Linked DNA regions of Homo sapiens: all the other regions are linked to region 1. Evidence: fine-mapped expression QTL. A gene starts in region 1. Each other region holds a variant in brackets. All regions are shown on one strand. Distances are between the middles of the regions. Region 1 holds the start of ARAP2 (ArfGAP with RhoGAP domain, ankyrin repeat and PH domain 2). Region 2 overlaps ARAP2 (ArfGAP with RhoGAP domain, ankyrin repeat and PH domain 2). Region 3 overlaps ARAP2 (ArfGAP with RhoGAP domain, ankyrin repeat and PH domain 2).

Region 1 (8,356 bases):
AAAAAAAAAAAAAAGAATGCAAGGTAGAGCATATGTTAACTATCTAGTTTTAGCCATTCTACAATGTAAACATATTCAAAACATGTTGTCCATTATAAATATATACATTTTTGTCAATTAAAACTTTAAAAAAGAATTTACCTTTTTCCAGGCCAAAAAGAAAGCTTGTATCTAAAGCAGAGAATAAGCTACTGAACAAATAAATATAAGAGGATGTGATGAAAAACGTCTTAGCCAAAGCTCCCCCAGAAAATACAGCCTGAGGCAAAAACCTATATGTGAACTCTTTACTGGGGAGTGGATCCCTGGGAGCAGGGCTGAAGGATAGGGCTGAGATGGTATACAGAAAAGCAACAAAAAATATATATCAGAAATATGCCTGTAGTGGCCAGGTTCGGTGGCTCATGCCTGTAATCCAGCACTTTGGGAGGTCCAGGTGGGCGAATCACTTGAGGCCAGGGGTTTGAGACCAGCTTGGTCAACATGGAGAAACCCCGTCTCTACTAAAAATACAAAATTAGCCAGGCATGGCAGTGCATACCTGTAATCCCAGCTACTCAGGAGGCTGAGGCAGGAGAATCACTTGAATCCAGGAGGTGAAGGTTGCAGAGAGCCGAGATTGCACTACTACATTCCAGCCTGGGTGACAGAGTGATGAGACTATGTCTCAAAAAAAAAAAAAAAGGAAAAAAGAAAAAAATCAGCCCATAGTGATGAAGTCGTTGAATGTTAAAATTTGAAAATGTGAATTAAATATTTCATAAAATATAAGTGGAAATAACAGTATAGTTTAAAATATAATTTTACTTCTATAGATATTCATCTAAATTGATGAATTAAATAAGTAGACATTTGCTTATTTTATCTATATACCTAATTTTCATATTTGGCAAAAGCAATACTGGATTTTCTTTTAGAAAAAAAAAAAGGAAAGATTATTTTAAATCCTGTTGTGTACATATTTCCGAGTATCAGAGATTTTGAAAGTCTTGAGAAGGAGGTAGGATTTGAATCAAATCTTGAAGAATAATTTGAGAAGATAAACTAAAAGTAAATGCATTGAGGGGTTACTATTTTTTTAGGTGCTGTAGATATATAATCATATTAAATTCTCATAGGTATTATTATTCTCAGTTTACATATGGGGAAACTGAGGCTCAGGTAAGTTAATGAATTTGCTTAAAAAAATGCCGCAACCTATACTGGTTCCATCTTGAATGCAGCCTTTTCCAAGCCTTCTACTTTCTTCAAGACACAATACAGTGCAGAATAGATCCTGGAGAAGACTGGGTTGGAATTCTCCCTCCCGTACAGTCCTAATTGTTTGATTTGTGTAAAGCATTCAATTTTTCTGTCTCTTAAGTTTTCTTATAAAGGAGATAACATCTCTCCAAGGAACTGCTGAGATACTTAAATGAGCTCTTGTAATTAAAATGCCTGGAACAGCAATTGGCACACAGTGCTCAATGGGTATTAGCCATCATGTTGTAAGAAAAAGTAGAAGGAGGAAAAGGAGGGAGAGAGGAGAGAGTGAGGAGGAGGAGGAGAGGAGGAAGATTTTCACTCTCTCAAATTGTCTCCTCGACAAGTAAAGCAACAAGAGATCACAATAGTAAATACATAGATAGGCACAGACACATCTTTACCTGCTTTTTTACTAAAAATCTGGGAAAAATGTGCAGGAGCTCGTCATTGTGGAATCATTTCAGCCTAGATGAAAATTACTGGGAATATATGTTCCAATGGTCTTGAGATTAAACATATTTTCTTACCTTTTTTTTTTTTTTTTTTGGAGGGGAGGGGATGGAGTTTCAGTCTCATTGTCCAGGCTGGAGTCTGGAGTGCAATGGTGCAATCTCGGCTCACTGCAACCTCCACCTCCCAGGTTCAAGCGATTCTCCTGCCTCAGCCTCCTGAGTAGCTGGGATTACAGGCATGCACCACCATGTCCAGCTAATTTTTTTGTATTTTTAGTAGAGATGGGGTTTCGCCATGTTGGCCAGGCTGGTCTCGAACTCCAGACCTCAGGTTATCTGCCCGCCTCTGCCTCCCAAAGTGCTGAGATTACAGGCCTGAGCCACTGTGCCTGGCCCATACCTTAATCCTTGTAAAGCCAATTTCCCTGTGTACTTTGCTCTCTGAATACCTCACTGTGAAGGTTGCAAAATAAAAAATTTATACCCTAAGAATATAGCCTAAATGTATTCAATGTATTCACTATTTACTACTTAACCTCTTTAAGTTTCAATTAAACCTATATTTATAAAATTGAAAAAAGAATTTTAACTCACACACGTTGTGTATACACAGCATATATGTTAGGTATTTGACTAGAGTCTGGTGACTATCGATCAATTAATAAAAGATAGCTTTTGCCGTATTTCCTCAGACATTTTTATTTTCCTCCATATATTAAGATTCATTAAACCAGAATACATCTTATAACTAATGTATACATTCAATAAGTGAGCATTGTTCTTCTTTATTTCCCAGGGCTATTATGAAGTCATTGTTGTACCTTGTAGCATTTACCTTTATTTCCCCTCAGAAAACATAAATCCAGAGATTGCATTGTATTTGCTAAACACTGTATTTTCAAAATGCCAAACAGTGATTAATAATTTTTAAAGAATAAATGACTGAATAATAATCAAAGAACTAAGATATTTTTGCGAAGAGGGAGAGAGACAATTTCTCAATTAGTTTATAAAATCTACCAAGCGAAGTAACTTGAGGACAAAGCAATGATTGAACCTCCCACACATAAGATAACTGATCTAATAATTTTTATTTATAACCCACCTTGTTTAGAGAAGGACCGAAGATGGCTTACAATGATAAAAATAGAGCCAGGCATGGTGGCTCACGCCTGTAATCTCAGCACTTCTGGAGGCCAACGCAGGCGAATCACTTGAGGCCATGAGTTTCAGACCACCCTGGCCAACATGGTGAAACCCTGCCTCTACTAAAAACACGAAAATTAGCTAGGCGTGGTGGTGCATGCCTGTAATCCCAGCTACTCAGGAGGCTGAGGCGGGAGAATGGCTTGAACCCAGGAGGCGGAGGCTGCAGTGAGCTGAGATCGCGCCACTGCTCTCCACGCTCCAGCCTGGGCGATACAGCGGGGCTCAGTCGAAAACAAAAACAAAAACAAAAAAGAGAGAGATAAAAAAAAAGAGAGAAGTATGTGAGAATTTGGAGAGGGAAAAGGGAAAAAGAACAAAAGAAACACACACACACAGAGAATGAAGCCAGAAAAGAGCCACATAAATAAAATTCCTCCTATAAATGCTATAGGAATCCAGAGAAAAAGTTCCCGTGGTTTGGAAAATGTCAATAAAACTTTCCTGGTGGAAATGAGGTCGGCTATGAGGTATTAAGTTCAAAAGGAACTGGATATTTGGTGTCTCTAGTAAGACAGAGCTGCTTCAGAGTCTCCCCAGGGAAAGACGGTGCTTTGGGCAGGTAGTTAGTGTGGGTGAAGGTGATGACTGAAGAATCCTAAGGGCCCAGGCTTGTGGGAAGCCTCTCTCTTTCCGCACTTCACCAATTATCTCATTTTCATAAGGTCTGCGCTTTCCTTAATTGCTTCACTTCCATCAACAGGAACAGGGGAAAGATAAATACATTTCACCTTTTAATGAAGAGAATTTCAGGTAGTCTGTGGGAGATGTTTATAAAAAAAAAAAAAAAAGCTGGTAGGGGGCAGTGTCTCACGCCTGTAATCCCAGCACTTTGGGAGGCCGAGGCAGGTGGATCACTTGAGGTCAGGAGTTTGAGACCAGCCTGGGCAACAAGGCGAAACTCCGTCTATACCAAAAATACAAAAAAAATTACCTTGGCTGATGGTGCGCGCCTGTAATCCCAGCTACCTGGGAGGCTGACGTGGGAGGATAGCTTGGACCCAGAGGCGGAGGCGCAATGAGCTGAGATTGCCTCACTACACTCCAGCCTGGGTGACAAAGTGAGACCCTGTCTAAAAAAAAAAAAAAAAAGTAGTTGGTCTGTGAACTCACTTGCAAATAACTGGATTTTACGGACGCTTAGATATTTGGAGGTCCACAAGGGTTCTTTGGGATCCCCTATTTTCCTTCGCTGCCTCCTTTGTCAGAGTCCAACTCAAAGGGGAAATGCCCCTCTGGGATCTAACCGCCACAGGTGCAAGAAGGAGCAAATTTACATAGAAGCAGCCTGGGGAAAATAGTGCCCTAGATGAGTCTTCAGTTTGGGAAACGCTGAGCTAACACTTTAAGTACTTGGAAGAGTAATACTAATAATCAGTCGTGGCGAGGTTCCGCCCATTTGACATTCAACCCCCCATGAGTGCGCACAGACAAACCCACTGGCCAGGAGGAGCCAACACAAGGTCCTGGGCATCTCCGTCCCGGGAAGGTGGGTAATGCCCCTGTCGCTCTGGGCTCCAGGGCGCGCCCCCGCAGCTTCCCCAGCGGGGTCTGACGCCTCCGGGCCGAGGTGCGCCAGGTGGCGAGGGTGCCAGGCGCGGCCAAGTCGCGGCGGTCTGAGTCAGTCACCCAACTATGCTGCGGAACCAGGGAGGCCGGCTGGGCCGCCCCCGCCGTTGAGCTCCGGCTTCCCCCGCGCGGGGCGCCTGCTCCCCGCCCCCGCGGGCGGAGAGGAAGCGGCGGCCGAGGCGAGGCGCGGGAGCACCTGAGCAAGGCGCGGGCGCCGGGCTCGGCGTTTCCGGAGCTGAGCGCGGGTCCGCGGCCCGCGCTCCCCGCCTCCAGGTGCGGCGGCCGCGACACGCCGGCCCCACTAACAGCGCCGCCCGCGCGGCCGCCGCCAGGCAGCAGAGGCGACTGCGGACAGCCGGCGGGGACCGGGAAAGAGGAGGCCTGGCGCCTCCGGCAGAGGGGCGAGGACCGAGCGCCCAAGGCTGGGAGAGACGCCGGCGCTGAGCTTCCCAGCGCCGCCTCACCTCGCTTTTCGAACTCCGCGACCCGAGCGCAAGGCGAGTACCCGGGGCCTCGGGAAGGCTGGGCCGGGATGGCCCACGCGGGGGTGGGAGGACCCTGTCTGGAGGGGCTGGGGCTTTTCGACACTTCACCGGGTAAATTTCCTCAGCGCAAAGTGCTCGGCTCTGGTGTCCGCCCCTTGGATTTCGCTCCCGCGTGTGGGCGTCTGAAAGGAAACCAGAAGCCGGTAAGTGATCCAAGAACTCCACTTCTGGGATTTGACCCGGGAGGGTGAGGATCCGGATAGACAGCTGGACACTCCCTCCATTCCTCTCCCCTACCTTTAAATAAGAAGAAGCTGTAGTGAGTTTCAGGCACCAAGTTATTTACTCGGTAGAGATCATGAATTTGCCCGGGTGTCTGTGCTGCCCCGCACCCTGCTTGTTAACCACGTTAAGACGACTGGCCTGTTAATTAACTTTAATTACGATCATTTGGCTTCCACCTGCCTGAACCCGATACCTTACACGGGAACCTGTATGATGTGAGTTTACCAGATTGATCTTTCTTGTTTACTTTTGGAGACAGTTCTCTTGGGAGAAGTGGTGTCCATCCTATTTAATAAAGTAAGTTTTACTTTATCTAATTCTGGCTTGTTTTCTTAAACACCTCCTACCTTGAGGTGATCTGGAGTTATTTTGATTTGGGGAAAGGGTTCGTGGATTATATAGCCTTTGATAATTAGAGGAAAACACAAGAAAATAAGCTAATTTGTGTGGAATAATGACATCTTAGGGTGTTGTAAGTAGGTATCCTGATAGCAAATTCTTTTTTTTTTTTTTTTTTTTTTTGCAAGCTTGTCCTTGAAGTAGGCTGTTCAGTAGAATACAGCCTTCGGTTTAAAAAAAATCAAGAAGTGTATTGAAAATAAGCTATTTTTAAAAGTACATTTAATAGGATGTCATTGTTATTACTCATAATAGTATTGTACTTACAAGCTCAGTATTGATTTATCTGCACTTAAGCACTCTACACCCCCACAGGCCCATGGAACTTTGCCCGTAAGTAATTGGAAGATAAAAAGCAAGCTAACTTTTTTTAAGGAAAAAAAGAGAAATACCTTTAAACTCTTTTTTTTTTAACTCTTATTTATGACTTCCATACACTTACAGGAGAAATATTGAGAGAAAATACTCATGACATTTTTTGTCCAACAACGTTTAAAGAAGAAAAAAAAGTGGGTCATGGAACTAGGCTAGGGTTAAGTGCAAATATCTTCCTGGCTTCTTTCTAAACATATTTAACACATACACATTTAAGGTGGTTCCTAACACGAAGAGGGTTTTATATAGATTTGTCAGTACTCAAAGATTTATTTGAATTAAAATGTACCTAGAGGGTAAGTGAGAGAGCTTGTTAAAACGTATTTATATGGGTGTGTGCTTGTGTTTGTATTTTTTCCTTCGTCTGTAAACCTGTCAGATTTTATGTGGCTTGTCTGTAAAAGGAGAAGCTGATGGTACGTTTAAAAACAAATTCTTGTTTTTCTAATATCACTGCAAGCTCCTTGCAGTGTAAGGCTCATGGATATGCAATAATATCAGATCCAACTATTCTTGGATACTGTGGAGAAGTATAGAACTCAGATTATAATGAATTACAGTTTTCTTAAGAACTTTAACGCATTGAAACTATGAAGTTTTAAAGTCTACGTAGAATTCTGGGTTATAGACTTCATGATATATGAGAAGTTTTTTGTTGTTGTTGTTGTTTCGTTTTGTTACTTTCTAACCCACCTCCCTGCAACTGTGAGAAAGTTTGGTGAAAGTGACTATAAAAATGCTAAGTATAAATAATAGTCATTGCTTTAATAGTTTTCTTTTAGCATACATTTCCACCTGTCCTCATTTATTTATTGATACATTTCTTGGATACAATCTTTGCACATGCTACATTGTAAGAGTTTTGGGAATTCTTGGTGAAATATTAATTAGGTAGAGAACTTCTTAATAATCTGGGAAATATGTCTTAGCTTTGACCACATATGGTGGATGTGAGATTAGAGGCTATGAGACGCTGTCTTAATCTTTTCTGCAAAGTTCTGGACCTTGTAATTTATCATTTTAGTTATTACTTGTAAGTATTGGCCAGATTAAATATATAATGGTAGTTAAACCATTTTGCTCACTTGTTTCTTCTTTAAATGAAGCAGTACTTAATGGTATTCTCCTCACGTGATCTTTTCTAGTTAGAAAGTTGTCCTGTGAAATTTTGTTTCAGTTTCTGTTCAGCACAAGCTTACTTATTTACCCATGCTGCAGAGAAAACAAAGGAGGCCTGATTTGGGTTGAAGCAGTGGTTTAGGTGGCAGATTTGAGATTTTTTAGAGTTCCTGAGAACTCATGAAGGATGATGGGGCCACTTCTCCATGTATTTAAAACAATACTAAAATATAAAACCATGTGGAAATTAGGGTCATAAAATTGGATTTTTCTCACCATTACAATTTAAGTGTTTTTTTTGGAATATATCAAATTCTTTGCAAAAAGTTGTTTTTTTGTGGTGTCTTTGGTATTGTTTATTGGCACTTACTGAGTAATAATGAACTGATTGTTCATATACGTGCCATTTACCTTTTCTTATAGTCATGTCTCATCTACCCTTTTAGATTGTAAACTCTTGGAGGGAAGACTGTATCTTCACTTTCTTTGTAGCCCTTAGCACTGTTGTCAAATGAGACAGTAGAGGCTGTTATCTTGAACACCAAATATCTCCCTCTCTTATCTTGGAGCGAGTAGTGTTGCTTAATATATATTGAATGAATACATGTTAAAAAATGGTCCAGTAAGGTAGGAGACGTTTTCTGAAATGCCCTCTTTTTATAAGAAAAAGAAACTTTGACAATTGCTAAACCAATAGGAATAAACCCTCAAACTCAGTTGGAAAAGAGGTCAGAGTACTATTTATAAATGCAAAGAGAGGAAACACAGTAGGCTATTCTGAAACATCTGGTTGTTTGTCTAAAAATATGACTTACATTCAGAGAAATGGTGGAGTATATACACTTATACAAAAGTTTTAAAATTCTGCTTTTGTAGAAACTCTAGAAGAATAAATTATTCTCTGATATCCCAAGAATTATGGCTTTACCTTAGGGATCTCTCTACATTAGAATTTTTAAAAATTCTCAAATCTTAGTGAATTAACTTAAAATCTGGATGGACAGCTTGAAAGGAAAAGACTTACAGAAGCTAAGGAGATTATCAAGCATTTAACTATTGCGATATTATCCAGAACACCTAAACCTAGGTACCTCCTATGCTACTAATATGTTCTTATACTAAGTAAAGGAATTTGTACTTGTGGCCTTCACTGGATGGAAATTGTTTTTAAGTTTTAGGTTTTTTTATTGTGTTTTTCAGATTGTGCTATAAGTAAAATAA
Region 2 (8,000 bases), 180 kb after region 1:
GCATCTGCTTGGCTTCTCGGGAAGCCTTAGGAAGCTTACAATTATAGCAGAACGCAAAGGGGAAGCAGGCACATCTTACATGGCTGGAGCAGAAGCAAGAGAGAGAGGGGGGAAAGGTGCTACACACTTTTAAAGGACCAGATCTCAACATAACTCACTCAGGAGAACAGCACAGAGGGGATGGTACTAAAACCACTCATGAAAACCCCACCCCCACGATTCAGTCACCTCCTATCAGGCCTCATCTCCAACACTGGACTGCATTTGAACATGAGATTTGGGTGGGGATATAGATGCAAACCATATCAGTAGTGTACTTGAAATTTCAGCATTATGTATGTTATTACTTGGCCCTTAAATTCTGTGTCTAAGAGAGTCCCAAAGTTTTTATGCTGATGGTTGAAAGACGATGAGAACTGTCACTCTGATATATAAAACCTCTCTATATTTATCCTTAATTTTTCCCAAGTAATAGATGCCGAGTGAAACTTTTTAACAAGATTAAAGTTTGTTTATAAACCCTGTCTTGTTTTTTTTTTACTTCATTTGCGATAAAATACATATATCATGGAATTTTCTACTTTATTTAAAAATACATACAATTCAGTGGCATTGGTTGTATTTACATTGTTCAACCATCACTATTTTTCTTAGTATTTTAACATATTCTAATGAAACTTTGGAATTAAGCTAGATATTAAACATTTCTTCCTATAAATTTCAGAGTAGGAAAAATGTATATAGCTTAAGATGTATAATCAGAATCTTACCAGAAAATTCCAAATTTCAAAATTATTTGTACATTATATTCATGAAAATATTTTTATTCCACTTGAATTTTCTGTTATAAATTTATGTTTGGATCTACTGAGATTAAGAAAAATAGAACAGTGTTGTATACTGGAAACTGTTTAAACTTTTCTTCATTTACTCATTCAAAAATATTTATTGATCATTTCCTATGTGTGTACAAGGCTCACACTTCAGTGAACTAATTAAACAAAAGGAAAAAAAAAATAGAAACCTTGCTAGACATATCTAAGCAGGAGTGAGTTAGAAGAGGCAAGTATGAAGTGAGATTCAATTTGAATAACTAACCCAAAAGACACCTTCGAAGTGGTATGTTGAATGCATGTTAAAATGAATTTCCATGGATTGCATTTTACAGATGTTCCTCAACTTATGATGGGGTTACATACCAATAAACTCACCATAAGGTGAACATACATAAAATAAAAAAGGCGTTAAATACACCTAACCTATGGAATGTTGTAGCTTAGCCTAGCCTAGCTTAAACGTGCTCAGAACATTTATATTAGCCTACAGCGGGGCAGAATCATCTGGCAACACAGCACGCCATATCAGTTTTTCACCCTCATGAGTGCATGGCTGACTGGAAGCTGCAGCTCATTGCCACTGCCCATCATCACGAGAGAGTGTCCTACCGCGCATCACTAACCGGGGAAAAGATCGAAATTCAGAATTTGAAGTATGCTTTCTACTTCATGCATATTTGTTTTTCACCACTGTAAAGTCAAAAAATCGTATTGAGGCATTGTAAGCCAGGGACTGTCTGTAGTTGATTTTGTAGCTCTAAGATTAGTATATAAATTCAGACATGCCACTTGTATCGAAGTAAAGTTAGGACCTAAGTCATAGAAATGAGATCTTTTATAGGAAGCATCAACTTTTATGTGGATTGCACTTTCTAAACCTAAATTGTGCCAAATCTTGCTTCCCTGTGAGACATTTAATTTTATTTTTAGAGTGCAAGAGCAGAACTTGAAAGGCTGCGGCTCAGTGAAAAGTGTGATAAAGAGTCCGTGGACTCTAGCTTAAAGGAGAGAGCTTCCATGGTGGCCCACTGCCTGGAGCACAAGGACGATAAACTTCGAAATCGACCCCGAAAACATCGGAGTTTCAACTGCCTGGAGGACACAGAGCCTGAAGCCCCACTTGGGCAACCAAAAGGCCATAAAGGCCTAAAGACATTGAGGAAGACTGAGGACAGGAATAGCAAAGCTACTTTGGACTCTGATCATAAGTTACCATCAAGGGTAATTGAAGAACTTAATGTGGTTCTACAACGGTCAAGAACCCTTCCAAAAGAATTACAGGATGAGCAGATTTTGAAGTAGGAAATAAAATGAATTGCTCCCCAGATTATTTTTTTAATATTGTATGCAATCTTTATGTGTAACTCCAAAACTGAACTATAAGATAATTCATAAGAATTTGCCTATTGATAGGCAAATTTGTCTATGCTTAGGCATTTAAGGAGCATTTAAAAATATGTATATATGTGACTGAATGTAAGATTAACTTTATTTTGGTCTGAACAAACCTTGTAAAGTTCCATTGTATTAACGTGTGTAAGAAGACATTGGGTTACTTAGGTGGTCAGTCCTTTTAAAGTAGTTGTCTGTTAAGTGGTATAATTTATGAGCAGAAATCTCAAACTGTACTGTATTGTATAAAATGCTGTGTTTAAATGAAGCCTAAGAAACTATCTGTAACATATTTTGCACTTTGAGAAACCTTGTATATTAAATTACCATATGTTTTTAGGTTTACAGAAGTTCTACCTTAGGGAAAAGAAAGGGAAGTAAATTGAAAAAGGGGGGAGAATTTATTGTAGTGGCTGCCTAAAAACCACTGGAGTTTTTAAAAGAAGCAAGGAGTTAAATGTCCTGCAAAACAAGGAAGTGAGCTAAGATTCATTCTAGTTCACTAATGACCAGAACTTGTCAATGAGAAACCACTTGTTAAGAAAAAGTCCAGTGTTTATTTCTCAAGAGTAATATTCGGCCAACAGATGTAAATAATAGCACTAGCCACTCTTATTAATATTTATAGTGTTAGAAAACCAGCCACATTACAGATTCACTACGTTTGAGCTCATTGTTGGTGGCTGCTAAGAGGAAACTTACACTGCATTGGAGAGGTTGTGTACACAGGACCTGGCCTGGATGCTGATTGCACTGTCATTGTATGCAAGCATTTTGTCTTTTTTCAGAATTTCTGACTATACTTTTGGTACGAACAAAATTCATCACCACAGGGTCCTGTTGTTTTGTTTGATTTTTAGATTTTTT[T/A]AAATTATTATTAAGGTTGTAATGTTTTTCTCCGAGTTGTCAGAAATAACTGGAAGAATACAATATATGGCCATTATGGAGCCAGGGGCTAGTTGGTGGTTTACTATACATTTGGGGGCTACCTGGTCACATTTAATCTAGGTTTTTTTTTCTTTTTTTAAGTAAAGGTGTGGTCTCTTCCCTGTACTTATGAATAAGGACAAAGCCCTATTTTTGTTTCCACATAAAGATCAGCTACTGAATTGGTGAATTTCCTGACAGACAATGCTATCTAACCATAGTTCATGTTAGGGGAAGCATTTTTCCATCAGTTTCTTTAAAATTGGATTGTCTGGTGAGTTTTGATATTAAACATTATGTAGCTAAGTTTTTTTTTTTTAGCATTTCTTTTTTATTTTTCAATCTATATTCACAGGCCCATACTTCAGTCAGTCCAATCATAGTACAGTGATGTGGTGGTAGATGCTATGAATTTCTTCATTGTAAAATACGGATCATTTGTATTTTGGGGTGATAAAATAGTTCACCATGGGTATGAGATATTTATTCTTTAAATCAAAGTAAATTAGAATTTTTAAAAAGCACAAAACTGCAGGACAGTTTATGAAATAGGTGGCACTATTAGGGAATCTTCCTTTAAAGCAAGAAATCATGTTATTTAGAAAGAAAAACTAATCTTAAACATACTATTTCTAATAAATATTTATATTTTTATGAAATAAAGAGGTATGTGGAAATTAATATTTGGTGATGTTGGACAGTGGAAAAGTATCTAGAGTTTTTACCTGCCTTATCTGAATTCTTCTTGAAACTTGAGCTTAAACTCTAATAGCTGTTTCCCTTTCTATTCTGAACAACTGTCTCCATTTTTCAAGTGTGAGAGATAAGGGCTAATGATGACATCTCATTTATTTTGAGTAAACATTAAAATTGTTTTACAAGTCTACTTGAATGTGACTTTATTATTTTCAGAAGTTGAAGGTTGTTATTGTGAAATAGATCAAATAGATTAGCTTTCTTTTCTTTTTAAAAAAATTTGAATTTAATATATACTTCAAACTGGCTGTATTGTTTTTCCAAACAGGTCACTGTAAGTAGCTTTATTTATTTAAAGACCCACTTGCTGAGAACCAGGCACAATTACAGGCTCTGTGGCCTGTATTGACGAGAAGCTGCTGACCAGCCACATCCCTACAAGATGCATAGTACCACCCCTGGTTTATAGGCATCTCTGCCAGCCTTGCCACACCATGAGAAGGCCAAGGGACTGGCACAAGTGTCTGGCACCTCAGCAGTGCCACTTGGTCATTCATGAGCAGTCCCTCATGTTCAGGAACAGTGCCTGTCACCCAGGCCACTTCAGCTGCATCCACTGTAGGAAGGAGCTGACTGGTGAGGCCCATGAGCTGAAGGGTGAACTCTACTGCCTGCCCTGCATTGACAAGATGCTGTCCCCATTTCTAGGGACTGCAGCCAGCCCATCAAAGGCCACATAGTGAATACACTGGGCAAAGAGTGGTGGCATGCAGAGCTCTTTTCCCTGAGTGTGAGAAGCCATTCCTGGGGCCCTGGCACTATGAGAAGAAGGGCCTGGCCTACTTTGAGATCCACTACAGCCAGCTCTTTGGGACATCTGCTGTAGCTGCAGCCATGAGGTCAAGGGTGACATGGTGTTGGCCCTCAACAAGGCCTGATGTGTGTGAACTGCTTCTCCCGCTCCACCTGCAAGAGCAGGCTCACTCTGAAGATCAAGTTTGTGGAGTTTGACATGAAGCCCGTGTGTAAGAACTTCCCACTGGAACTGAAGAAGAGGCTGAAGAAGTCATTGGAGCTCACGTCTCGCTAGGCCTAGCCCAAGTCTGGGGACCTCAACTCTGAAGGCTCTCTTGCCTGGCCCTTCTCTCCCTCCCTTCCTTCTCCCAGAGGACCTCTGCCTTCTCCCTCTCCAGCTCACTGCCTTCTCACAGCCACCTCCCACTTCTATTGTCTGTTCTTGGACTCCTCATCTCCCTTTACCTGCTTCTTGTCCTCCCCTTGTCTCCTTTCTCATCATCTCCACCCTTTCTATTCTCTTATCTCTGCCTTCCCCAATGTCTTTTCTCTCCTTTATGGTGGCTTCTCTCTTTCCTTCTGTGCAGAGGCAGTGACCCAAGAGGTGGGGAGCCTGTGAAAGGCCTGGGCCCATGCCCTGTGACTGCATCTACCTGGGTCCATGGACTTCAGCCTGCAGAACTCCAGGGATAGCAAATCAGGGTCTGGGGTCACCAGAGCTCCTATCCTGACCTGTCCCTCCCCACAGGGAACCAGGTTGCACATATTCCTGTGGGACCCTCCACCTCAGAGTACACCCACAGCCAGAGCAGCCCACCTGAGCTGCAGGACCAGGGCCACCCTTCAATCTCTCACCATTCATTTAACCAAGTAGTATCCCTGTGCCCAAACTGGGCCAGCAAGTCCTGCCACCCCATTCACTACCTGCAGGGACAGGAGCCCACTTCCATCAAGAGGACTTTCTGAAATCCAACCTTGGCCCCTGCCTCTGGCTAGGCCACTTGGTTCTCCCCTCCCCCAGCCCAGAACCTGTGTTGAGACTTTGGGTGTGGCTGGGAATAGGAGGTGGTAGGGTCAGAGGTGGCTTATTTCCACCTCTAAGGAGGAGAATTCCTCCACAACCAGTGCAGACCTGAGGTTGGGACTCAGGCTTGCATAATGAAGGCTTAGTCACAGGAAAAAAAAAAAAAAAGAAAGAAAAAAACAAAAAAGCAAAGCACTCAAAGTGCTCAAAGGCACTCTCAATTTTATTTCTGTAGCCCTAAAATTAATTATTAGACATGGTTTTTAAATATTTGATTTCTAAAGAAATCATTACCTGATGATTCATCAAAGTGTCACTGAGAACTCAAAATCAAACAAAAATAATTGAAGCAAAAATATGACTTATGAACGTAACTATATTAGCTGCTGAATTGCATAATTTTTAATTCAAAAATATAATGCAAAAGCAATTTTGTAAATGCATTAAATGTATTTGAACAGGTTGTAGCATGCAGATATTTGCATCTTTTTAAAGTTTTAATAATCACTTTAGGAAGAAGATTAAAACTTTCACCATCTTAACAAAATTTGCATGAAGACTTACATATTCTTCCTTACTCAAATGAACTTGTAACCAACCCCAAACTCATTTTGCTTGCCTCACAACAGCCAGTAAGTTAAGGAGGTGGAACAAGGAACAAGGAAGGCAACTTTATTTTGGAAAGCCAGCAAACCAAGAAGATGGCCAACTAGTGACCTAAAGTACCATTTTAAGTCGGTACAAATTTCAAGCTGTTTTTATGTTTAGGGTAGCAGGAAGAGGAAAGGGTTGGGATCAAGATGTGCGCCACAACCGCAGAAATTTGGATACTAGTCAGAGTTTGAGGCAGCTGGAGCTGCTTCGTCCATGGTCAGGTCACAATGCTTCTGCAAATCTCTTTTTTTTTTTTTTCTTTTTTTAAATTTTAAGTTCTAGGGTACATGTGCACAACGTGCAAGTTTGTTACATAGGTATACGTGTGTCATGTTGGTTTGCTGCACCCATTAACTTGTCATTTACATTAGGTATTTCTCCTAATGCTATCCCTCCCCCAACCCCCCACCTCCTGACAGGCCCCAGTGTGTGATGTTCCCAGCCCTGTGTTCAAGTGTTCTCATTGTTCAATTCCCACCTGTGAGTGAGAACATGCGGTGTTTGCTTCTGCAAATCTTTAACAAAACATAGCTGTTTACATACTTTTCCTTTAATCACAGAGTTAGTTAAGAAAACTACATGACTGTTTTCTTTGAATTTTTTCTCAGTGCTCTAAAATTAGCCTGTGAGCAGGAATAGGTAAAGACCCCTTTAACAAAAAATGGAGTTAGTTATGTTAGTTTTTCTACTGTTTCACTGTTACCAATTAGTTAAGGCAGAATTAGTTGTAAAATGTGACCATTTTTCTGTCATGTGTACAATCATCACATTTAATTTCTAATGATCAGGAAATGCAAAGCACAGAAATGAATCAGGTAATTAAAGTTTATGTTTTTAAGTTGTATAATTATTTTAACATTTTTTATTTAAAATATTACAAATTACATTGTATTACCCCTTTTCTGCCACAGCCACTATATGTTGAATATAAAAGTTTTGATAATTGAGATACCTCTGCAGATTTAACCCTTTTTATGAGTTAAAGTTCAGAGCCCAAATGTCCTCATCTGAGAAGTAGGAATGTTAACTTGTTGACTTTTTTCAACAACTGTTTTATACACACACACACACACACACACACACACACTCTCACACAAATTACGAGCCAGGTATATGAAATAGATACATATATAGCAGCATAGTAGAGATACAATAAATGTTAGTTATTAATGTATTAGTCCTCCTAGCTCTCATTTGATCTTAGTTGACCCTAATGGTTTTCAAAACCGCTTCTAGCAGGCAGATCAAGACGGTGTAATAGAAGGCTCTTCCAACTGTCCTTCACTAAAGGACACCAACCTAATAACTATCTACACAGAAAACAAACTTCATATGAACCAAAACTCAGATGAGCACTCACAGTACCTGGTTTTAACTTCTTATCACTGAAGGAGGCACTGAAGGGGTAGAAAATACGGTCTTGAATCAACACCATTCCTCCCCAACCCCCTAGCAGCAGCAACATGGTGCATTGAGGAAACTTTTTAGGACAACGGGCTGGGCAAAAATTTCTTGAGTAATATCCCCATAAGCACAGGCAACCAAAGCAAAAATGGACAAATGGGATCACATCAGGTTAAAAACTTCTGCATAGCAAAGAGAACAACCAGCAAAGTGAAGAGACAATCCACAGAATGGCAAAAAATATTTGCAAACTATCCAACTGTCAAGGGATT
Region 3 (8,000 bases), 170 kb after region 1:
TTTAGCATTCACCTCTAGCTAAGTCCAACACATTGAATCACCACTTGTGGAAGTCTATGCATTCCCACCATTAAATCTCATCTCCTTAACATCTAATCCTGTTTTCTGTCTTGTAAAATGTATTATTTTTAATTTATGTGTGTTTTTTTTTCTATGTGATGCAGCTGGGGATTGACCGCATATTCTGAGAAACATCACTGGTAAGTTAACAGCTGACAACTTTTGGACATAATATATTGGTGACAATTTCAGGAAAAGAATAATTTCAGTAATTGCAGATAGAACTACAGACGGAAAGTGTTTTGCCTAAGTGAAATTAGGGTTGTTTGTAAAGACTTTGAGCCTAAGAAGAGGAAAACAGATTTGTATCAGGGTTCAAGTCCCATGTATCCTATTTGGCAATGCCTCTGAAGTGAAACTACGCCTGATTTCTTCCATAGTTATTATGAGTGTGGAATTCAGCTTTTATGAGATAAGTAGGTGATAGTTTTAAAACAGAATAAGAACTAGCTAAAATCAGATTTAAGAAAAACATATATCCCGCTCTCAACCCTATTTCTATATATGTACTTTTTGCCATATACTGTTACCAGTATCCATCAGTATTTCTAGAGATTGTACTAGATGTTTCCTTCTCTTCACCTCCCTGTGTCTAATCGGTCACTGAGCCACACGAGATCTGCCTCTTCCTTGTGCCCCTCCTCCACCTACACCTCTCTACCCTGAGGGCCTGGCCTTCATTGATCTGCCTGGATTATTCCAGGAGTCCTAAGTGCTCTTCAGGCCTCTTCTTTGCTTTTGTTTTGTCGTACATTCTCCACCTCTCCACTGAGGAGTATTTTCTATGCTGTACCATGTTTCTCTCCTGCTTTAAAACTTCTGTGAATTCTTTCACCTATAGGATCAAGCACAGAATTGTTGCGTGGCATGCAAGGCTATATATGACTCCACCAACTTCATCTCCCACAGTTTTTCTTTTTCACTTAATGACAAAACAATCATCTATCTTTATTCACCACGCATTCCTTGCTGTTTCAGATCTGCATGTGTGATGTACATGGTCCCTCTACTAAACCTTTGTTCATACTTTTCACTTCTCCTTCCTGTCATACTTTCATTCTCCCCCTGATGACTCAACCAACTCAACTGTCAATGTTCTTTGAAATCATAGCTCAAATGCCCCAAAGCCTTATCTAATAGCTCTCACCTCTGATCATTATTTCTTCTTTGCACCTACAGTATTTTATAAACAAGGGTACGGAATTAAAATGATTTGTGGCAGGAATGGTTTGTGGCCTGGACATGGTAATAGGGAAAGACAATGTTTTCATGAGGTGCTGATGAAGAAAACACAGATTTTTTAGAAATTTCATTTTCAACATTTTTCAGGTAAATTATTTTGATAATACAGGAATGTAAAGAATACAATTACTTTGAAAAGCCCATTAGATCTTTCCAATATCAATTATAAAATTTTCCTCTTATAAAGAACAACCCTCTCCTCATCCCCAAGTCTGTGGTTTCTATGTTTGCACTCAGTTTTATTTTTGCTTTTTCTCACTGTGTTGTAATTTATTTGTCTATATGCTTAGCTCCCCTAATAGACTACAGGAGCCTTCAGGACAAGGTCTCTGTTTTAGTTAGTCTTTCAATAAAAGGTTACTTAATCACTGTTATTGGATATGCAGTGGTTTTTCATGTAGTTTCATTTTTTATGAATCTGTGGGTATTAGTGTTTACAATTACAATGATGGAGACTATGTCTCAGCCTTTTAAAAAGAAAGATCTGCTCTTATGAGGATGTGCACATATTTTTCTTCTCAGGCTCAGAATTTTAGTGGAATACAGTGTTTTACCATCAGGTACTTGAAAAGGCAAAATGAAATAAATCTTTCTGCCTTTCCGAAAAATATTGGTCATCATTTTGCAGCACTTACCAAAGGCTTCAGTTGTATTTTGTTTAAACCAATATATTTACACTATAACTTCGTATTGTACATTTAGCAGAAGACCAAAACAACTTGTACTGAAATGTTCCACTTTTGTGATTGCATTACGTCATTAATCAGGAGAGACCCAGAGATTTTTGATCACCAAATCACTCAGCAGATACACTAGAGAACAGTCAATTGTCTTTTTGAATGACATAGTTTATAAACCTCGTTTTGCAGGCACCTGTGTTGTGATAGTTCACGAACTCAGACGGAGTGGATGACCAGTATCTTTATTGCCCAGGTACGAGATTTGTTTGAACTATCCAGTAGAGTATAATAACTTTGTTTACAGGAAATGTTAGTGTGATGGTGATTTCTAAAGAATTTTTAATAAGCATTTTAAATGTATGTACAATTGGCATAAACTTTGATTCTCTCATTCTTAGTTTTTAAAATAGTATATTAAAGTTCAAATTTATTCATTACCTTTTGAAAGAGAGTTTATTCCATTAAAGCGTCTTTTCTGCCAGCCCCACAGCCTCCTTGGCTTAGGTGAGGTGTGTTGCTTTAAAATGGTCGTGTAAGAAAGAGGGACTTTTCTAAGCTGTCATCCTACCACAATCCCACATAGACCTTCATTTAGAAAAGTGTTCTATTTCCCTTCTTGTTCTCCCACTCTCTCCACCCCTGCCTTTCCAGAAACAAGGACAGGAACCTACTTTTCTTTAATAACTATTGTGTGCTAGATACTTCATAAGAATAACTCATGTATTCCTTGCAGCAAACCATACAAGATGTTTTTGGTTTTATAAAACAAATGTTTGGTTGTTTGCTCAGGACCATATATTAGTAGTTTAAACCCAGGGATGTCTGAGGCCAATGCTTATACTCAGTTCCGTATTTGTTTTCCTCCCTAGAGCAGGACTTACCCTTTTGAGGAACAGTTATATAGTCCCATTAATTGGACTGGTTTGTTTCCCAACCTTGTCTAGCTAAATTCCCAATAATGCTTCTCATGGAGCATTGAAATTCACTGGTAACGATTAAGTTGCCATTCTTTATTACTGAGGAGGTATTTTCCTGTTTCCCTTATAAGAAATAAGTTAGCTCACTCCAAAATCTAGTTCTTATTTGTTCTGAAAATAGTTTTCTCTGTTCATTTAATGTATTAACTTTTTCAGTGGTTAATAAACACAGCTCTTCTCAGCCTGTCTCTCTACCATTACTACCTGGAAAAACATGTGCACAAGAGACTGGCTGCTAACTTTTTAGAGGCTTTTCTTCTTCTTTTTGTAACTTATTAAAATTCAGATATTCAACTTTTTTTTTTTTTTTTTTTTTTTGAGACAGAGTCTTGCTCTGTTGCCCAGGCTGGAGTGCAGTGGCATGATCTCAGCCCACTGCAATCTCTGCCTCCTGGGTTCAAGTGATTCTCCTGTCTCAGCCTCCTGAGTATCTGGGATTACAGGCGTGCACCAC[C/T]GTGCCCAGCTAATTTTTGTATTTTTAGTAGAGATGGAGTTTCACCATGTTGGGCAGGTTGGTCTCGAACTTCTGACGTCAGGTGATCCGCCCACCTTGGCCTCCCAAAGTGCTAGGATTACAGGCATGAGCCACTGTGCTAGGCCACATCGAGTTCTACTTTAGGAAAAACAAAAGACTGGATTTGAAGTCTTTTGGTAAAGTTGGGACTATAGAGTCTAAAGCTGTTACAGTGTCATTTGTGGCACAACTAAACTGATGTTTTTGTTTTTATAATTGGAGTCAGTAGACTCTGCAGTTGAAATTTAAACAATGAATGCAGGAAGCAAAGCCTACTCTCACTACAAGGTTATTTCTTACTGTCTCATGTTTTAATCCTAGTCCTCGTCTCAAAGATTTAGCCTAATTATCTTTCCTCTGTTCTTTTTACTTCTTGGTATTATTCAGGTCCTCCCTTAAGATAAACACAGAAGCCTTCTTGGATTTAAGGATTTATGGTTCATCTCTGTAGGGAAACAGCAAAATAGCAAATATTTATATATATGTTAAAAGCGTAGACATACACACAAACACGTATGCGAATTAACAGTAAACACCCCCTATAATGAGCTCCTTTTGGTATTCAGAGTACTTTTGTAATCTCCATCCTTTCCACACCCCTGCCTCAGAAGTCATCTAGACTTCAGCTTAAATATCCCATTCTCAGAGAAACTTTTCCTGACCTTCAGATGACTTAGACCTTCAGGCTATCACCCTTAGCATCCCGTACTTCTCCACTGTGACACTAATTAGTAAAGAAAAAAATGTAATTAGCTATTTCATGTCTGCCTCTCTTACTAAAATGTAAACTCCATGAAAAGAAGGACTCTTCATCATATTTGACTTGTATGTCAAGTACATGTTTAGTTAGTATTTCTAAAATAGGAAATAGGGTAAGAAAATCAGTAATCAGATAAAATTTCAAATGGATATCCATGTGATAAAATAGGAGAATCATAAAATATGGCAGGTAAGGAGAGCATGTGACTGACATAAGGAAGGCACTAATTGAGGAAGGTTCTCAGGAAATGGCTTTCTGAGTAGGTGACAGGTGACCTGAGACCAGTCTGAAATGAGAGGGGTATCATGCAGGCTTCCAGGAAGGATCATTCAGGAATGGGGCCAGCAGGGTATGTCCTGAGACATCATCACTGTCTTGTTTTATTCTATAAACATCATGAAGGTAAGATATTAGAGATGAGGAAGGCTTGTGACAAATTATGTAGTTCCTGCTTAATAGTTTGAAACAAGGGAAGGATATAATCTAATTTTAATTGAAAAAAATTATTTTGTTCACTTCATTGAGTCTGCAGTGTAGAGGGTCAAAGATGCAAGTGGGATGAACAGCTATAGGAAAGAAGATGTCAACTCAGACTAGGGTGGTAATGAATATGGTAAGACAAATTAAGATTCAGGAATATTTTGAAGGTAGAGCCAATAAGGCTTTTGGAATTATTGCGAAGTGACTACGTTGTCTGTGGTATATACCCTAGAGTTCCTTGTCACATGCCAGGAAAATTTAGGACACAGACACACACGAGAAGTTTAGGAGCAGGAGGTTTAATAGGTAGAAGAGAAGAGAAAGAGAAACAGCTTCCTCTATAACAGGAAGAGGTCTCCAAGCAGAAAGTACCAGCTAGTGCAGAATGCGCAGTTTTATAGTCCAGTTTGAGGAGGTTGTGTCTGATTTACGAAGGGCTCACAGATTGTTTCGATCAGATATGGCGTTTACATAGTGTATGGGTAAGTCTGGTCACCCCCACCCTAATCTTCTTATGCAAATGGGCTTTCCAGTTGATTGACACCATCTTGTCCTCTCCTTACAATGCATTTGGCTGGCAGAGAAGGGAAGATGGAGCCACCATTTTGAAAATGTCTAGTCCTTAGTTCCTGCCAGCATTCACCCCTGCAAGCTCCTAGATTGCAGGCTGCTTTTTGTTAGAAGATGGCTTGGGACTGCTTTTCATTAAAAAGAAAAGCCTTACCAAGGACTCCCATGCCCTTGCTATCTGCTTAGTAATTCCTTCTTAACTCCTGTGTCAATTGGCTATTGCAATTTGAGAGGAAGAGTAGAAATCAGAAAAAATTCTAGTTTTTTGGCAACTGTCAGATGTAAGTGGGATCATCAGAGATGTAGAAGGAAATGGAGAGTTCTATTTTGGCCACATAAAATTTGAGATGCCTATTAGATACACAGATATGTATGCTGGGCAGCAGGTTGGATGTGTGGATCAAAAACTCAGGCACAGGTTTGGGGCTAAAATGTAAATTTGGGGGAAGTCAGCACTTAGATTATATTCAAAGCTATAGGATTAGATGAGATGCCTGGGGGAGAAGGTTTGAGGTGGAGAGGGAAGCATGGAGGTGGAGAGGGAAGCATGGAGGAGGGTTGGGGAGAGAGAGAGAATGGAGGAATAAGCCCTGGGACATTTCAAAATTTAAAGCGTAGGCAGAAGAAAAAAAAACAGCAAAAGCAGTGATAAGAAGTAAGAAAGGAGGAAAACCAGGTGATGGGTACAGAAAATTCTCTCAAGTAATTTCTTATGTAATTAAATGAGGTTGTGACTAGATAGAGGTGAAGGTAGGTTTGGGGGTTTTGATTTATCTTTAAGATGGGGGAGTGTGTACTTGCATACATTATATGAAGACAATCCAATCAGGAAGAAGAAATGGACAGAAGAGGAGAGATGTTATTAAACCAGCAGAGGCCCTGAACAGACATGAAATGATATGATCTAGTGCATGGTTATTCATTATTAAAAATCATCATACAGCAGAGACTGTGGCACATTTCTTCTCAAATTATTGACCACCTAAATTTATGACCCATTGAGCTGAGCAATTATAGATATGACTGGATAAAAGTTATTTGCAATCAGCAAATACTGATTGCAAGAAGTAAACTCACTTAGATGACTATAGATGCAAGGAGATTGGTACATTTCATGATGGGAGTATTTTCTTAAATGATCAGTAATAATTGTTGGATTGAATCAGTGAGATCACCACATGTGACGCAGGCAGGGTTTTTGAAGTGTAAGGGCAGAGGCAAAGGAGAGAAGTAATCTTCAGAGAGTGAGGAAACCAGTTGTCCCATGGTAGAACTTCAAGGCAGTGCTGAATGGTTTCTTAAAATTTAAGGTTAAATTTAAAGTGTGATGGATGTACAGAGTAATTTGTTTTTGTCCTCCATCAACTGGCAGGCACTCATGAAATAAGCTGAATTGTGTTTAATTAGGTTTGGGGCTTTGCCAGGCAAGTATGATAGAGAACGAAGGAGCAAGAAAATAAATAAGTAATCAGATAAAATTTGAACTTGAAGATATTTACAAGGAAGTGAGTTTACTGATTGACCATGAAATGAAAGCCAGGCAATGAGGGAAGTGGTAAAAAATGTTGTGAGAAGAGTGGTGGTGGATTGGAGGTCTCAAGGAGTGAAAAGAATAGTTAAAATGAATGAAACTAAATTTAGTTAGCTGGAAAGATAGGCAAAGGTTAGAAAATGGAAGGCAGAAATGGAGATGTTTAGGTGTGGTCTTTGGTTATAAAATGAAAGTTTGATCCTCACCTATATGATCCGTGCTGTATGACTTTTGAAGTCATTTACAAATAACTACAAATGTTAAATCAGAACACATCACTTGGATGTAAAGTAGAAAAAAATGCCTCTTAGTTCAATTCAAGGAGAGTTAGCTGGTATTCACAGTTGTATATTATTTCAGAAAAAGAGAAATATGGATTTGGGAACCGCATTTGCTCTTAGATTCTTCAAAATATATTTTAGCGTATGCACTACACATCAGTGATTTGAAAGTGTAAGGGTAATTCACAAAATTGCCTAATTCCCTCTCAGTCAGTTTTCTCCCAGGTTTATGTTTTGGGAACATCACAATTATATAATATGCTTTTTTTAACCATGTTTGGTACTGTGTCATAAAAATAATGTGAAGCTATAACTTTCCAATTGAAATACTGTATAACCTACCATTATAGATTTGCGGAACTAAGGTAAATGCTTCACTAACATTCAAGGGTAGATACGATGCACATTAAAGGATCTGCACTGTAAGATCATTGAGGAATAAATGAAAATTATATGTACATTGATAAACATACAGCTTGGCAGTTTGCCCCTTAGTTAAATTAGCTGTTATTATATGGTAGGTAGACAGTAAATATTTGTTTAAATGAGTTCTTTGCCATAAAGCAACACATTAAAATAAGAGCTGCAACCTAAGAACAATAATCTGTTGCTTAAGAACTGAGAGAAATAAAGAGTAGGCATTTAGCTATATAGTTTACTAAATGGTTTTCATTTCATTACAATATCTGTAAACTTTTCATTTTATACTCGGTATTCTGTGTTTACGTCATAGATTGTTGTTTGAAAATCAATATACTTTTTCCAAATTCTGGAAAGTTAATCTACCCTGGGGAGTACAAAATTCTTTAAAGAATTTTTTATATGTATATATCAGAGATGAATCACTCCAGAGCTTATATTTTTACCTGTGAACATTTATCCCCATCCAAATTAACCTTTCTCCA

What was found. PIP is the estimated chance that this variant, and not a neighbour inherited with it, causes the effect.
Region 2: its variant is fine-mapped to the expression of ARAP2 in whole blood (INTERVAL, PIP 0.95).
Region 3: its variant is fine-mapped to the expression of ARAP2 in whole blood (INTERVAL, PIP 0.95).

What each region holds. Positions count from the first base shown.
Region 1 is chr4:36,240,792-36,249,147 of GRCh38, reverse strand. ARAP2 (ArfGAP with RhoGAP domain, ankyrin repeat and PH domain 2) reads left to right here and starts at 4,634. Exons shown (of 33, transcript NM_015230.4): 1 at 4,634-4,969. LOC439933 (a long non-coding RNA gene) reads right to left here and starts at 5,032. Exons shown (of 5, transcript NR_122079.1): 1 at 4,937-5,032; 2 at 3,838-3,976; 3 at 542-666. RefSeq lists a silencer at 4,259-4,838.
Region 2 is chr4:36,062,045-36,070,044 of GRCh38, reverse strand. It overlaps ARAP2 (ArfGAP with RhoGAP domain, ankyrin repeat and PH domain 2), which reads left to right. Exons shown (of 33, transcript NM_015230.4): 33 at 1,767-4,041. The coding sequence ends at 2,138. It also overlaps the pseudogene LOC651644. Among named protein-coding and RNA genes, the nearest start is that of ARAP2, 180 kb to the left of the region's middle. The variant T/A (reference allele first, on the strand shown) is at 3,096.
Region 3 is chr4:36,074,451-36,082,450 of GRCh38, reverse strand. It overlaps ARAP2 (ArfGAP with RhoGAP domain, ankyrin repeat and PH domain 2), which reads left to right. Exons shown (of 33, transcript NM_015230.4): 30 at 165-200; 31 at 2,172-2,235. Among named protein-coding and RNA genes, the nearest start is that of ARAP2, 170 kb to the left of the region's middle. RefSeq lists an enhancer at 781-830. The variant C/T (reference allele first, on the strand shown) is at 3,414.